Linked DNA regions of Homo sapiens: region 1 is linked to region 2. Evidence: fine-mapped expression QTL. Tissue or cell type: whole blood. Region 2 holds a variant in brackets; the other region holds the start of a gene. All regions are shown on one strand. Distances are between the middles of the regions.

Region 1 (8,099 bases), 120 kb before region 2:
CACTGGTATACTTGTTGCGGTATCTAGCCTCAAAAAATGGCCACGCCTAATCAACCATGCTGCTTAGTGCTCATGCCCCTGTGTCATCCACTCCCACACTGAGCCTGGCCTGGCCCTGGGTGACCAGTACAACATGGCTGAAGTGACTCTGTGACTTCCAAAGCTAAATCACAGGAAGCCCTGCAGCCTCCACTTTGTTCCCTGGGAACACTTGCCCTGGAGACATTTCCTCTTTGACTCTTGCTGTCATGCTGTGAGATACACAAGCCACATGCAGAGGCCATGTGTAGGACTCCAGAAAATAGCCCACATCAACTGACAGCCATCTTCCAGGTTCCTAGGGCCACCCAGACCTCCTGAATCTAAACCTGTTTTAAAAAGCCTTCCAGGTGATTCTAATGCACATTAAAGTTTGAGAAGCATTTCTTTCTTTCTTTCTTTCTTTTTCTTTCTTTCTTTCTTTCTTTCTTTCTTTCTTTCTTTCTTTCTTTTTCTTTCTTTCTCTCTCTCCCTCTCTCTCTCTCTCTCTCTCTCTCTCTCTCTCCCTCCCTCCCTCCCTTCCTCTCTCTCTCTCTCTCTTTCTTTCTTTCTTTGAGACAGAGTCTCGCTCTGTTGCCCAGGCTGGAGCACAGTGGCGCAATCTTGGCTCACTGCAACCTCTGCCTCCCAGGTTGAAGTGATTCTCCTGCCTCAACCTCCCGAGTAGCTGGGACAATAGGCCTGTGCCGCCACGCCCAGCTAATTTTTACATTTTTAGTAGAGACGATGTTTCCCTGTGTTGGCCAGACTGGTCTCGAACTCCTGACCTCAGGTAATCCGCCCGCCTTGGCCTCCCAAGGTGTGAGCCACTGTGCCCGGCCTGAGAAGCATTTCTGTTATTAATGGTGCTCTGATTTTTTTTTCCACTATAGCCCATCTCAATAAAACAGAAGATTCTTTGGCTCATATGGCCCTCACTTGGTCTGGTCTCACTTTCCAGGGAGATGGGATTTGATAATAAGAAAGGTCTTGGTGACTGGTGGGCACCTGCTACTTTTGCCTATACCATGTTGCTTCCTTATTCCTCTTTCACAGTGCCCTGCTTTTTTGCTTTCTTTTCTCTCTCTTTTTTTTTTTTTAGAGAAGTCTTGCTATATTGCCTAGGCTAGGATACAGTGGCCATTCACAGTTGCAGTTGCAGTCATGTACACTATAGCCTCCAACTCCTAGGTTCAAGTGATCTTCTTTTTTTTTTTTGAGATGGAGTCTCGCTCTGTCGCCCAGGCTGGAGTGCAGTGGCGTGATCTTGGCTCAGTGCAACCTCCGCCTCCCGGGTTCAAGCGATTCTCCTGCCTCAGACTCCTGAGCAGCTGGGATTACAGGCGTGTGCCACCACGCCTGACTAATTTTTGTATTTTTAGTGGAGATGGGGGTTTCACCATGTTGGTCAGGCTGGTCTTGATCTTCTGACCTCGTGATCCACCCGCCTCAGCCTCCCAAAGTGCTGGGATTACAGGCGTGAGCCACCACGCCCAGCTTCAAGTGATCTTCTTGCCCCAGCCTTTGGAGTAGCTGGGACTTCACGTATGTGCTGCCACGTCCGGCTAATGCGCCCTGCTTTTTGCTGGAGGGCTTGTCCTCTCCCTTTCCTTCTGGTCATGGTGGGACTATAGGCAAGTGTCCCACCTCCAGCCCTGGTAAGGGCACCAGTCAGGCTGGAACATCACAGTATCACTTCCATTGGAACACAGACAATGGGGGACACTGACCCAAGAGAGCCAATCAGAGTTCTTTCTGGAACAGCCAGACCAAGTTGAGGAAAAGGATCCTCACCAGGTGGTGTACCGGAGACTCTGTGAGCCCAGAGCTGATAACCAGCCATGCCTGACGCTGTCCATTGCTAGACTATCTGGTTGTGCGAGCCAATAAATTCCTTTAAATTGAAGCCATTTGAAATTTGGCTTCTGTCACTGGCAGCCGAAGAGTCCTGACTATGACAAGCAAATCTGAAAGGATGAGGCATATGTCTAGTATAGCAATAGATGGTTGATAGATTCATAGTTGAGCTGAAATTCAGACATGAGTTGTAGATTTGCTATAACAGGCTGAAAGCTCAGTCAGTGGTGTATGCTTCCTGGCACACTATGGTGTTCATGTGCCACCTGGCTAGCTCTGGCCCAAAAGATGCAAATGAGAGTCCATTGGATCAGGGTTCTGGGAAAGCTTTTGCTTTCTGGGTATAAAGGGTCAGACTCAGCTGTCACATGCCCTTTTTTCTTTTCTTTCCCCTCCTTCCTGCCTGAAATGCAGTCATGATGCCTCGGGTGGAGCAGGAATCTTGCTAGCGTGAGGAGCAGGCCACATGCTGAGAGAGTGGTGGAGCAGAAAGCAGGAGGCAGCCTGATGGTCCTGGGAGCTGTTGTCCCATCCAGGATTTCCTCCCTCTTGGCTTCTTGATATATGAGGAAAAGTAAAATCTGATTTGGTTGGGCAACTATGGCTGGGTTTCTGTTACATGTAGCCAAATGCAACCCTAACATAGACAATGCCCTACACTCATTGCATCCCAAGAAAAGCCTGGAATTTTCAGATCAAGTTTTAGCCTATCAGTGGCCCACACTTAGAGACTTGCCACATTTTTCAGGTGAGGGACCTGGATCCCTGTATTTGTTTCTTGTCACTACTGCAAGAAATTACCATATACTTAGTGGCTTAAAACAACAGATTTATTATTATAGTTCTGGAGGTAAGAAGTCCTAAACTTGAAGTACCAGCAGGGCTGCATTCCTTCTGGAGGCTCTAGGGGAGAATCCAATTCTTTGCCTTTTTTAGCTTCCAGAGGCCACCTGCATTTCTTGGCTCATGGCCCCTTTGTATTCAAGGCCAGTAGCACGGTATCTTCACACCTCTCTCTCTGACCTCTGCTTCTGCTGTCACACCTCCTTCTCTGACTCTGACTCTCTCCTGCTTCCCTCTTTCCCTTATGAGGACTCATGTCATTATACTGGGCCCACCTGGACCATCCAGGATAATCTCCCTACAGGAGCATAGGCTCTGCAAGATCTAAGTCCCTTTTGCCATGTCAGGTAATATATTTAGAGGTTGTGGGGATTGGGAGGTGGACATCTCAAGGGGGCACTATTCTGTCTACTGTAGTCGTAGAAATGAAAAGGGACTTGCCCAAGAGTACCCACAGAGCTGACTGAAAAGAAACAACTATGGGTAGGCTCACACCACTGGCAGAAGCACCCCTTTTCCTCCTCCTTGGCATGAAGCTAAAGCCCAGCCATTCTCCAAGGTCCATTTCAGGCTGCCCCTGCCCAGAAGCCACAGCTGCCCTCCTAGGCCTGCAGAGGTCATCCTCTTGACTGTGTCTGTGTCACTCATTGCCACTTGGCACACATTTGGTCAGCAGTCGTGAAGGTCTTCCATTGTTCTCTGCCCAGTCTTGATCCTGGAAGGCAAGGATCACACCCTAGAACTTTTTTGTGCCCACTGCACAGAGTAGGGTCTCAATACGTGTACGGTTCATGATGTTCCTAGCAGATTCTCCAAACTGACTCACTCAGCCCCTGGAACACTAAAAACTGCATTTCCCAGACTCCTTTGCAGCGTGGGCTAGGTTCCACCAAGCCAGACACAGTGAAAGTGAGTGGGTGGCCACAGGTGGAGGGCACAGTGGTGGATATGTTTTGTTCTTTTGGGGGCAGCTATGCTGGGGGCTGCACTAAGTGATGGGGCAGTGGTCCCAATGGAGTAGTAAAATTAAGTGTTTCTCGTGGCTGCATGGCTCCTGGCTGTGTAGGACTTAGACCCGTCATCTGTAAGCTCCTTCACCTCATGTAAACAAAACCCCTCTAGCTGGAGTGGTGTCTATTGTCTGCGACTAAGAACCCTTATATAAGGTATACTACTCCCCAACCCCATTAGTGGAAATCCCAAAGGGTAGGAACTGTATTTTATTTCACTTGTAAACAGCTCCCCTAGTAAGCATGTCAACAAAATATACACAATTCATTGAACCCCATAACATTTCAACGAATTCCTCATCCTTTCTGTGAATCAAGAGCCTGAAAAGAAATGGTGAAATAATATGATCCTCTCTTCTTTGAAAGCTCAAAGCTATGTTGGACCAGAAGTAAAGTGTTCTCGTTTCTATTTAATAACTTGAAAGGTTCCGAGGGGCCATTGAGGAAACTCCTCCCTTTTAATATCAATGTGTATTTATTGCAAAAATAATGTAGCATCGAGTGGTATTTTATAGCTTATCCAAAAACCTCCTGGGTTTAACGCATTGTGATAGTCCCGTTTTCTTCTCAGCCCAGGTCCTATGCATCCTCATCTATGCAGGGCTGTTATCTGCATATAATTTTTTTTTTTTTTAAGACAAAGTCTTGCTCTGTCGCCCCGGCTGGAGTGCAGTGGTGCAATCTCGGCTCACTGCAACCTCCGCCTCCCAGGTTCAAGCGGTTCTTCCGCCTCAGCCTACCGAGTAGCTGGGACTACAGGCATGCGCCACCACACCTAGGTGATTTTTGTATTTTTAGTAGAGACAGGGGTTTCACCATGTTGACCAGGCTGGTCTCGAACTCCTGATCTCAAGCGATCCACCCGCCTCAGCCTCCCAAAGTGCTGGGATTACAGGCATAAGCCACTACGCCCGGCCTCAATTTTGTATTGTACTTTTTCTTTCTTTCTTTAATAGAGACAGGGTCTCACTATGTTGACTAGGTTGGTCTAGAACTCCTGGGCACAAGCTGTCCGCCCGCTTCTGCCTCCCAAAGTGCTGGGATTGCAGGCGTGAACCACCGCCCCTGGCTACAGGTGCCTTCTTGTCTCAATTTGCCTTTGACCTTTCTTAGGGACTTGTTTTCTGCTTTTCCTGCTCTTTGTCCGCTGATCTCCTGGGAAGAAAGCTTCCGAAAAGGACACCGTTTCAGGGGCGAGTGACGCCGGGGTGCCCAGGCCGCGCCCCAGTTCCGGGTTTGCACCCGGTCTTCTTGCCCTGCCCCGCCCGCGGGACTACAGTTCCCAGGCGCCCCTGCGCGGCCGCGGCGCCGGCGCCGGCGTCGGTTGGGACGCGGAGCTGAGGAGCAGGGCCGGGCGCCATGGCACCGTGGGGCAAGCGGCTGGCTGGCGTGCGCGGGGTGCTGCTTGACATCTCGGGCGTGCTGTACGACAGCGGCGCGGGCGGCGGCACGGCCATCGCCGGCTCGGTGGAGGCGGTGGCCAGGTGAGTGGGCCCCGGGACGCCGCTGGGGCCGCCGAGCTCTAAGCTCAGCCCGCTCCCTGGCTGCCGGCAGGGGGCGGGGCGGCAGGGGGCGGGGCCGCGGCGCAGGCCCCGCCTCGGTCTCCCCCTTCCCACCCCGGTGCGCGCACAGTGCTGACCACGGACGACCCCACTGTTGCCCCCGGCGAGCACCAGGACTCTGCTGGTTAGGGCTGCGCGGTCAGACAGGGCGGCCACCTGGTACGTGCGCTGCTGAGCGCTTGACCTGCGGCCAGTCTGAATTGAGATGTGCTGTAAGCGTAAAATGCATACCGATTAACAAGACTTAGCCGGGCGCGGTGGCTCGCATCTGTGATTCTAGCACTTGCAGAGGCAGAGGAGGGAGGATCGCTTGAGGCTAGGGGGTTGGAGACCACCCTGGGCAACATAGGGAGACCCCGTCTCTGCCAAAAATTTAAAAATTAGCCGGGTGTGGTGGTGCACGCCTGTAGGCCCAGCCACTTGGGAGGCTGAGGCAGGAGGATCGCTTGAGCCCAGGAGGTCAAGGCTACAGTGAGCTGTGATCACCCCACTGTACTCTAGCCTGGACTGCAGAGCGAGACGGTCTCATAAACAAAACCCCCAAAAACACCAGACTTCGTGAGTAAAATGTAAAATAAAAACATGAAAATGGGTTATGTTGTTTGCCTGTTGAAATGATATACTTTTTGTTTGTTTTGTTTTGTTCTTTTCAGATGGAGTCTTGCTCTGTCGCCCAGGCTGGAGTGCAATGGCACGATCTCGGCTCACTGCAACCTCCGCCTCCCGGGTGCAAGTGATTCTCCCCCTTCAGGCTCCCGAGTAGCTGGGATTACAGGCACCCGCCATCATGCCCAGTTACTTTTTTTATTTGTTTTGTTTGAGACGGAGTTTTGCTCTTGTTGCCCAGGCTGGAATGCAGTGGTGCAATCTCTGCTGACTGCAACCGCCGCCTCCCAGGTTCAAGCGATTCTCCTGCCTCAGCCTCCTGAATAGCTGGAATTACAGGCATGTGCCACCACACCCGGCTAATTTTTTGTATTTTTAGTAGAGACGGGGTTTCACCATGTTGGGCAGGCTGGTCTCTAACTCCTGACCTCAGGTGATCCACCTGCCTCGGCCTCCCAAAGTGCTGGGATTATAGGCGTGAGCCACATGCCCAGTTGATAATATTTTTAATATACTGTTTTAGGTTAAAATATTTGAAATTAAGTATACCTTTTTTTTTTAACTTTTGTTAATGTGCTTATTAGAAAACTTTAAATTACCTTTGTGGCTCTCATTATAATTCTGTTGGACTGCATTGGTTTAGGTGAGAGGAGGAGGAAGAGAACATCGTGCCAGCCAAGACTTGACCATGAGGACACTTTTTTTTTTTTGAGACAGTTTTGCTCTTGTTGCCCAGGCCGGAGTGCAGTGGCGCCATCTGGGCTCACTGCAACCTCTGCCTCCCAGGTTCAAGTGATTCTCCTGCCTCAGCCTCCCAAGTATCTGGGATTACAGGCACCCGCCACCACGCCCAGCTAATTTTTGTATTTTTGGTAGACATGGGGTTTCACCATACTGGCTAGGCTGGTCTCGAACTCCTGACCTCAACTGATCCACCTGCCTGGGCCTTCTAAAGTGCTGGGATTACAGGCGTGAGCCACCGCACCTGGCTGACACTTTTCTTTGTATAATTTTTTTTTTTGAGACAAGGTCTCATTATGTTGCCAGGGTGGTCTTGAACTCCTTGGCTCAGGCAGTCCTCCTGCCTTGGTCTCCCAAAGTGCTAGGATTACAGGCATGAGCCACCACACCTGGCCTAATTTTTTTTTCTTTTTTTTTTTTTTTTTTTGAGACAAGGTCTTACTTTGCCACCCAGGCTGGAGTGCAGTGGTTCAATCTCACTGCAACCTCTACCTCAAGGGCTCAAGAGATCCTCCCACCTCAGCCTCCCAAGTAGCTGGAACTACAGGCACGTGCCACCATGCCCAGCTAATTTTTTTGTGTTTTTTGTAGAGATGGGGTTTTGCCATGTTGCCCAGGCCGGTCTTGAACTCCTGGGCTGAAGTGATCTGCCTGCCTCAGCTCCCAGAGTTCTGGGATTAGAGGTGTGAGCCACTGTGGCCAGCCAGAAGGACACTTTCAGTAGCATGGTTGGCACCACTGGACCTGGGCTTTGTAAGGCCTCCTGTTGGCATCCCAGGTCAGCACTGCCATGTGTTGATAGGCAGCCGGGAAGGGCTAACTGCCAGGACTTGGCCTCCCGGAGTCACTAGCTGAGGCACCCTGGCTTGGTAGCCTGATGTCACTGGGACTCAATATACCTATCTGTAGGTGGCAATTAACTGAGTCTCTTGGTCCTTCTTAGAGACCCCATTCTACCAATCTGCATGTCTGATGTCTGGGAGCTGCTGAGATAATAGGGACCCAAACGGTCCCGCATAGTGAAGCCGGAGGTGTTTGGGAGGCTGGGAACTGGGAACAGGGAGACTTGGCTTCCAGGAGCAAGCACAAAGGGCAGCCCAGACCTAGGACACTCCGCTGGGTCCTGGGTCTGCTCTCAGTGTTGGCTGAAGTTCAGGGTTAAGTGCATTCCTGACCTTATTCTCCATTACTCCAAAGCTTTAGACTAGCTCAGTCACAGATGAGAGCATTCTGTGAGTGGCACTGGTGGGAATCCAGCAGAGGGCTCTGGGCAGTGTTTTGGGGTGAAGTGGGCCTCATCTGGGGAGCAGGAAGCCAGAGCTCAATGCTGTGACTGGGGCAGGCAAGGCCTCATGGGAGACCCTGCCACTCATTGCTTGCGGAAGATACATTTGACATTATCTACCAGTGGTTCCACTTCTGAGAATTTGTCCTTGTCTCATGCGTGAGAAATGACATGAGT
Region 2 (8,102 bases):
TTGCAGCCAAGGAAAGTGAGGCTTAGCTGTCGGGGGCTGTGGGGGGATGCAGCTTGCCACACTTGACACCCAAACGCTGATTTTGTTTACATGAGACTCAGGTCCGAGTTTATGTCTGAGACCTGGGAATCAAAAAGCCACCCCCACAGCCTCCAGGGACCTGGCTCCCCTGGAGCCACCGTGCTGCCCCACAGGTGTCACCCATGGAGGCTGCAGGAGCACCTGGCGTGGTCCAGGGGACACGAAGCCCTGGTGCTGGCTCCTCCCAACGCCCCTGTGAGTTCTGCCTCCCATAGACCACATGTGTCATCTGCGTGCACATGTGTGAAACCCGAAAGACAAGCAGATGAGACCCGCCTGCCAAAATATTTGCTGCCGCGCAGAACAGTAAGTCGTTTTTGACATATGGATCTCAGCGCGCAGCCACAGCAAACAGGCAGCGTGGCGCTGAGGGGCACAGGTTTGCTGGGGGGCGTGAGCCGGGAGCATCGCCAGCAGCAGGCTCGCCCCCCTGCGAGGGCGCGCACGGATTCGCTCGCCACCAAGAGCAGGGCCCCAAGAGGGGCCCTCGGCATAGTCCCCTCGAGTCCCCAGAACTTCACAGGCAGAGAGCCTGGCTCGAGGATGGGCGGGAGCTCAGTCTGGCTTTGATCTGCGGGAGGTGTTGTGTGCAGAAGCTGTGGGCACCGGGGGCTGCAGAGCTTCAGACCTGGAGCCTGCTCCCAGGGCCGATCTGAACCCGGCACCTGTGCTGACCCAAGGGTCAACCAAAGTCCTGAGTTTGGTGGCGCCGAGGGAGGGGAGTGGTCGCATCCCACCGGGTGCCTGGAATGGTGCTGGAGGAGGCAGCATCTGATTTGGGCCCCGTAGGGCCAGAGGGGGGATTTGTAGGGACAGAGCAGGAGGGAGTGGAGCTGAGGCTGGGGGAGGGCATGGTCGGAGGTCCAGAGGTGGGAGAGGGGCCGCCATCCTGAAGCACACCCCTCCTCGTCTTCCTGAGGCCTCCATCCCTTCCTGATCTTCCAGGTCATGGGCTCCAGGCTTGGGCCCACTGCTGTCCTTCTCCACTCTCTCCCCAGGGAACCCACCTGGGTTGTGGCCTTAAACCCAGCCAGATGATGCTTCTCCAGCCTCTGCCTCCTGCCGGGCCCTCCCCTGAGCTCAGAAGCTGCCATCAGTAGCCATGCAACCTCCCCCTTGCCATCATGAAGTATCTCAAACTTGGCAGCCTCGAAACAGAGCCCTTGGGGAGTTTAAGCAGAAACAGAATATTTTTGCATAGTCTTAAAGTAATTCCCCCCACCCCCAAATATTGAGCAATTACAAAGGGCAAAATAGGAAGTTTACGGTGGAGAATCCTGGTGGACACAGCCTTGGCCAGGTGATCAAGGTTCATGTCACCAGTCATGAAGCGGCGTGCACCCCTGGTGTGCTGAGAAGGGCAGCTTACCTCCTGCAGGTGCCCTTGCCCCAACGCACCACTCAGCCTAACCATGGGGAGCATCCGACAAAACCAAGCTGTCCGCATCTCCAAGGACAGGCACACTGGGGCTTAGGGCTTCAGTGGGGGCGGAGGTACAGTTCACTCCCTAATACGCCATTTACTTGGAGAAGCCCTCTCCAGCTGCCTGAGGCAGAAGCACCCGGTTCTCTCTCTGCAGGACCCCTGCTTTGTTCTTCCTAGGATGCGTCAGCCCCTGATTTTCCATGACAGTCCCCTGTGCCCATGTCCTGCAGCCTCTCCTGGGGGCAGGAGCTACAGGGTTTCTTGACTCCTACCTCAGCACTTTGGTCCAAGCTCTGAGCAGAGACCTCTGTAGGCGTCTGCAGGACTGGCTGGCCCTTGTGTCTGTCTTTCCCCTCGTCCTGGCCCCCTTTGTCCACTCCTGCACCAGCTTCCCTGGACCCACTGCCACTGCGTCACGTGGTCGGATCTGTGTCCCCTGCACTCTCACCACCTCCAACTTGCATCCCGGTCCCCCACACCCTGACCCCCAAAGGCATTGTGCATGTGGATGAGTGAGTGAAGGAAAGGCTGGCGTGTTGGGTGTGCGAGGTCGCAGGGGCATGAGGTGCCTGGACGGCAGAGAGCCAGGGCTGGGTGAGGACCTGGGTGCCAGGTCGGGGGTCTGGGCAGCCTGGTGGCCCCCTGAAAACGTTCACATCCCTTGGGGCCTGCTGTGATACATACTAATCAGTGCTTCATGAGAAAGGTATGAGCCGAAAGAAATGGGGGTTCCCACTGGATTGGTCGTTTCTGCATTGTCCGGAGCTCTCAGACCTGGTTTCTTAACCACTGTGTTCACTGAACACCCCGGGCTTGATCAGCTGCTGAGGGTGACTTCACATGAGATTATAATTGTACTGCCTAATAGAGTGCTCACACATGTTAAAACTACCTGGCAGGCAGGAGTGAGAATACAGCTTTCCCAGAAACGTGTTCAAAGAAAAACCCATTACCAACCCGGCAGAACATAAAGTACTAGTGTGGGGTATGAGGCAGCATGTGGGGGCGCTGGGGTGGCAGCAGGGCCAGACCCCACTTCAGGGGTTGCCCCCAGGACCCCCCTTGCGGTACCCGTATATCCCACCCCCAGACTCCTTTCCATGAGCTGCTCCCAGACCCCCTCATATCCATCCTGCCTCCAGAACCCCTATATCTTGCTCCCACTCCCTACCATATGCTGTTCCCAGACCCCCCTCCATGGCCTGCCCCCAGATCCCCCTTTGCTGCCACCCCTATATCTTACCCCAGACTCCCCCATATCTCGCCCCCAGACCCTCCTCCATGGTCTGCCCCCAGGCCTGCTGGTAATATGGGATACAGAGGTCTCCTCACTGCACACACAAAACTCCTTCCCTGAGCGAGGGATAGGCAGAGCTGAGGGCGGGGGTACTGGGGGGCTGAGGGGGGTTCTTTAGGGCAGGAGTTACCTGCCCTGTAGACGGGGAGACCACATTAGTGTTTGTGCAAAGCCCTGCCCTCGTGCACCTGTCCTTCCGTAGCCCACGATACCTCATCCAGCCCGGGCCCGTGGGTGGGCTGCTGAGCACCCGACCACAGCCAGGCCTCCATGTGCCACTGTCAAGGGGACTTGGCCCGCCATGATCCTGAGTGCACAGGTACATTGCTCCGCCCTCTCAACAGCCACGACCCAGAAATAAAGTAGGCACTGTAATTTGCATTTTGAGGATAAGGAAACCGAATAATAGAGTCTACTGAGCGCATACTCAGTCTTTCCAGACCCTAGAAAGTAGGTACCATTGTCATCCTCATTTCAGAGCTAGGAGAGCAGAGGCCAGACAGGTTCCATAGCCTGCTCAGGTGGGTCCGTGCTGGACCAGGAGAAGGGCCAGGTAGGCTGATGGGTCCTGAGCTTGTGCTCCCGACCGCCAGGCTGTGTGTCTGATGGCCGAGGCCAGGGTGGCTCAGCCAAGCCCAGCCAACCCAAGACTAGACCATCCCCAGCGTCCACCCCAGCCTCCTGGGCACAGGGGTCACCTCCCACCCCTGGCCCACCCATACAGCCTTTTCCCATCTAACCTTTTCTTTAAAGGAAGGCATCCCTTGGAATGAGTCCACCCTGAGATTTTATGGATCCAAAGAAAAAACTTAATTAGCTGCATAAACTGTCAGTTGAGACTCTCCAGAGGACACACCTCCGGCTTTCAGGTTCCCCAGGGAATCTGAGGCTCTGAGGCAGGTGGACAGCCAGGTCCCTCTTTACCCAGCACCAGGTAACCTTAGAGGCCTGGCCCTGCCTTCCTCATTTTGAAATGTCACCCTGTGGTCATCTCTCCTTCCCTGATGTGAAGCAGTGACCAGTTCTGCCCCATCCTACACATGTGTGCACACATACATGCACACATGTGTAAATACACATGCATGCACATGCATATGTGTGCACACATATGCACATACCTTCACCTTCCTATCCCTCCCCAGGGGAAGGCCTTCCTTGGGGCTGCCCCTCCTCCACTCTGGCAGCATTGGGACTTGAATCTTGTGGCCCCGTCACAACTGTACTCAGCTACTCCAGCTCCTTGTGTGACCTCTCAGCCCCCAGGCTCTGAGCTACCTGAGGTGAGGTGGGGCCACACTGGTCCCCACCTCGGTGCAGCACACACAGCCCCATCCTGGGAGTGCCACCCAGGTTTCCTCTAACTGTGCTTTCCAAGGGCTGGAAGGACCTCTTCCTCTATGCCAGGTGTGCTAGAGTGGCCCCAGCCGAGAACCTGACTGGGACCAAGCCCCAGGACAGTGGTCAGGCACACACCTGAGTCGCTCTTCCTCCCATAGACACATTTGGAGTTCCCACTGCCTTCCTAGGCCCCACCACATGCTGTCACCTCCAGGAAGCCTTCACAGGTTGCTCCCTGCTGATAGCCTTGACCTGCTTCCCAGGGCATTTGCAAGGGAGTAGAACGAAGACCAAGTCCGTGCAGGGGCTGCTGGCTCTGTGCT[C/G]AGCACACGCCCCGTGACCACCTCAGGGGCGGCTCTGCGAGTCCCCACTTGACAGGTGAGCCACAGGGCCACAGGCATGGCTTGGGGTCCTCTGCGGAGCCCGATGTGTCACTGGCCCTCACGTGTCCTTCTCCGATCTGCTCACTCATTCATCCATTCATTTATTCAGCAGGGGTTCTTGAGTGTCTCTGAGGTGGAGCGTCTGCTGTGAAGGACTGGCGGGACGCAAACGGTTACCACTGGTGTGACGGGCTCTGATCAGGAGGCACAGGGTGTTGGGGAGCTCAGAGGGTGACATCTCACCCTGCCTTGGCCAGTGTGGGAGGGAGAGGGTTCAGGGAGGATGTAACTGTGTGTGTGGCAGGTGCTGTGGTGGCACAGAGCTGAGGGGACATAGGCACAGTTGCTGGATGCAGGGCTTACACCGCGCCACGCGTCAGAAGCTAGCAGGGGCTGAGCAGCATCTCTGCCCTCCCCGCTTGCACCCCCACCATCCAGTGCAGCCCAGCACCTAGGGGGCATGGGGCCAGTGCCTGGCACATTTTGTCCTGACTGTGGAAAAAAGCTCTTCACAGCCCTGAGTGCTGCTTTAGCTTTGGCTCCACCCATCTTAGGCTGCTCAGAGGCCTCAGGCCTCCCTGGAGGGCCAGAAGGGATTCCCAGGGGCAGGATAGCACGGACGGGGGGGTCCGCTGTGTAAGCCTGGGAAATTCTGGCTGCTTGAAGCTGGCACACTCCCCTGAGGCTGTTCCAGGCACAGTCACTGGGTCTCCCCGTCGAAGTGGCTCTAAGGCAGGTCTTCCCGGTTACCAGCAAGCAGATACATGTTGTAACGGGCTGAGAGTGGGTGTGTATCTCATATTCCCCAGAGGAGCTTACGGACAGCCCCTCTTTAAGGAACATCTCCCGGGCCGAGCGTTCTGAGCGCCCTCTGAGCAGGCAGCCCACCACCGGGGCGCTGGCCAGTCTGAGTCAGTCCTGCCTGGGAGGCAGTCAACTCTGGGGAAGGCAGAAGAATCACAGCACTGAGTGCCGTCCAGTTTCCCCTCAACTATATTCGCGGACACGGCGCCAACAGGGGAAAACTTACATAGCACCTATTCATTCTGAGGCCTGGCCGGCCTCTGGAAATCAGCATTTCAGTGTTGGCCAGGAAGGAGGCCAGAACTGTGCTGTAGCATTTCAATGTATGGCTGTCCCACAATTTATATTCCAGTCCCCTGATGATGGACATGTAGGCGGTTTCCAGTTTTTTTCATGATCACAGATCACACTTCTGTGAACAGCTCTGGATGTGTCTCCTTGTGCAAATATGGTGCTAGGTGTTCTTCAGAGCATTTTTCTCCAAACTTGCCGGGTAATATGGTCACCTTGGGGAGTTTGTTAAATATACATATTTCCAGGTCTGCTCTGGTGGGTCTGATATTTGGAGCCAGGAATCTTTTCTTTCTTTTAACAGATACTTAAGTGATTCCTGTGGTCCAGGAAGTTTTGCAAGCTCTGATGCAGAAGAGCTCGCTGGAGCAAACATGTATGTTCTGTTTTACTAATTAGATATACGCTGTTGATGACTCCAAAGTGGACGTGCCATTTCTGTCCCCTCCAGCAGTAGGAAAGAATCCCATTATCCCACATCCTGGCCAGTTCTTGGTATTGTGAGATTTTTTTAAACTTCTTCTCTTAAGACTATGATGGTATTTTGTTGTAATATAATCCACATTTTCTATATTATTACTGTGCTTGAGCACTTCTTCAAATGTTTGATGACCTTGACCATTGAAACTTCCTTTTTGTGAATTACCTATTCATATCCTTTGTAGCTTCACTGTGGAATGCTTGTTACTGATTTGTAGCCATTCTTTATACATTTCACTCCCACTCGTTTGTCAGTTATATGTGGTGCACACATCTGCTCCCAGTCTGTGGTTTGTCTTTCCACTTTGTTTATGGCCTCTTATTGGGACACAGTTTTAAATTAAAATATAATCAGATGTATTAATCATGATGTTGTAGTTTGTGCATTTTCTATCTTGTCTAAGAAATTCATCCCTCTCCTTGTTATACTTAGAAAGAAGGATATTCTACATTCTCCTTCAGGAGTTCTAAAGATTTGCTTTGCACATTCAGGTTCCAAATCTACTTGAATTTGACTTGTGTATATGGTGTGAGGTAGGGATTTGATTTTATTTTCTATGTGGATAACAGTTGTTCCATTATCACTTTTGAGTAGTCCACCTTTTCTCTCACTGACTTATAATGCCACCTCTGTCATGTCAGCTTTTCATATTTATCAGTTCCTGTTAAATGTATCTTTAAAGCTTTATTGAGACATAATTCACATGATACAATTTACCCATCTAAAGTGAATAATTAATGTTTTTATTATATTCATACACCATCGCTATCAGTCAATTTTAGAACATTTTCTTTTTTTTTTTCTTTTTTTTTTTTTTGAGATGGAGTCTTGCTGTTGTCACCCAGGCTAGAGTGCAATGGCACAATCTTGGCTCACTGCAACCTCTGCCTCCTGGGTTTAAGCACTTCTCCTGCCTCAGCCTCCTGAGTAGCTGGGATTACAGGCACCCGCCACCACACCCAGCTAATTTTTGTATTTTTAGTAGAGACGGGGTTTCGCCATGTTGGCCAGGCTGGTTTTGAACTCCTGATCTTGGGTCTTGGGATCCACCCGCCTTGGCCTCCCAAAGTGCTGGGATTACAGACGTAAGCCACCATGCCCGGCTATTTTCATTACCCCCAAATAAACCTTGTACCCTTTAGTTACCTCCTCATCTCTGTAACCCTAAGCAAATACTCATCTGCTTTCTGCCTTTGTGGGTTTCCCTGTTCTAAATATTTTTTATGAATGGAGTCATATAGTATGTGGCCTTTTCTGTCTTCTTTTACTCTGCGTGTTTTCAAGGTTCATCCATGTTGTAGCATGTATCAGGACTTCATTTCTTTTTATGGCTGAATAATGCTCCACTGTATGGATAGAACACAGTTATTTATTCATTCCTGTGTTAGTGTATATTTGGGTTGTTTCTGCCTTTGGCTATTGTGAGTAATGCTGCTATAAGGATTCATGGGCAAGTTTTTGTGTGGACATAGGTCTTCATTTCTCTTGAATATATGCCTAAGGAGTGGAATTGCTGGGTCACGTGGTATCTATTTTTAATCACTTGAGGAATTGCCAGACTATTCAAAAGCAGCTGCACCATTTTATGCCATTTTACATTCCCACCAGTAGTGTATGAGGGCTGATTTATCTATGTCCTTACCAACGCTTCTTATCTGACTGTTTAATTCTAGCCATTCTAGTGGCTGGTGAAGTACTATCTCATTCAGATTTTGGTTTGCAATTCCCTACAATGATGACTAGTGATGTCAGGCATCTTTTCTTGTACTTATTGGCCACCTGTATGTCTTCCTTGGAGAAATGTCTATTCAAATTTTTTGCACAATTTTAATACATACATATATGTATATACACACACACACACACACACATTTTTTCTTTTTAAACAGATTCTGCTTTGTCGGCCAGGCTGGAGTGCAGTGGCACAATCTTGGCTTACTGCAAGCTCCGCCTCCTGGGTTCATGCCATTCTCCTGCCTCAGCCTCCCAAGTAGCTGGGAC

What was found. PIP is the estimated chance that this variant, and not a neighbour inherited with it, causes the effect.
Region 1: it holds the start of LHPP, and the variant in region 2 is fine-mapped to the expression of LHPP in whole blood (TOPMed, PIP above 0.99).

What each region holds. Positions count from the first base shown.
Region 1 is chr10:124,456,776-124,464,874 of GRCh38, forward strand. It overlaps LHPP (phospholysine phosphohistidine inorganic pyrophosphate phosphatase), which reads left to right and starts at 5,048. Exons shown (of 7, transcript NM_022126.4): 1 at 5,048-5,212. The coding sequence starts at 5,088. RefSeq lists a silencer at 4,928-5,387 and enhancers at 6,904-7,404, 7,405-7,905.
Region 2 is chr10:124,573,818-124,581,919 of GRCh38, forward strand. The region is part of intron 6 of LHPP (phospholysine phosphohistidine inorganic pyrophosphate phosphatase); the gene reads left to right. Among named protein-coding and RNA genes, the nearest start is that of LHPP, 120 kb to the left of the region's middle. The variant C/G (reference allele first, on the strand shown) is at 4,466.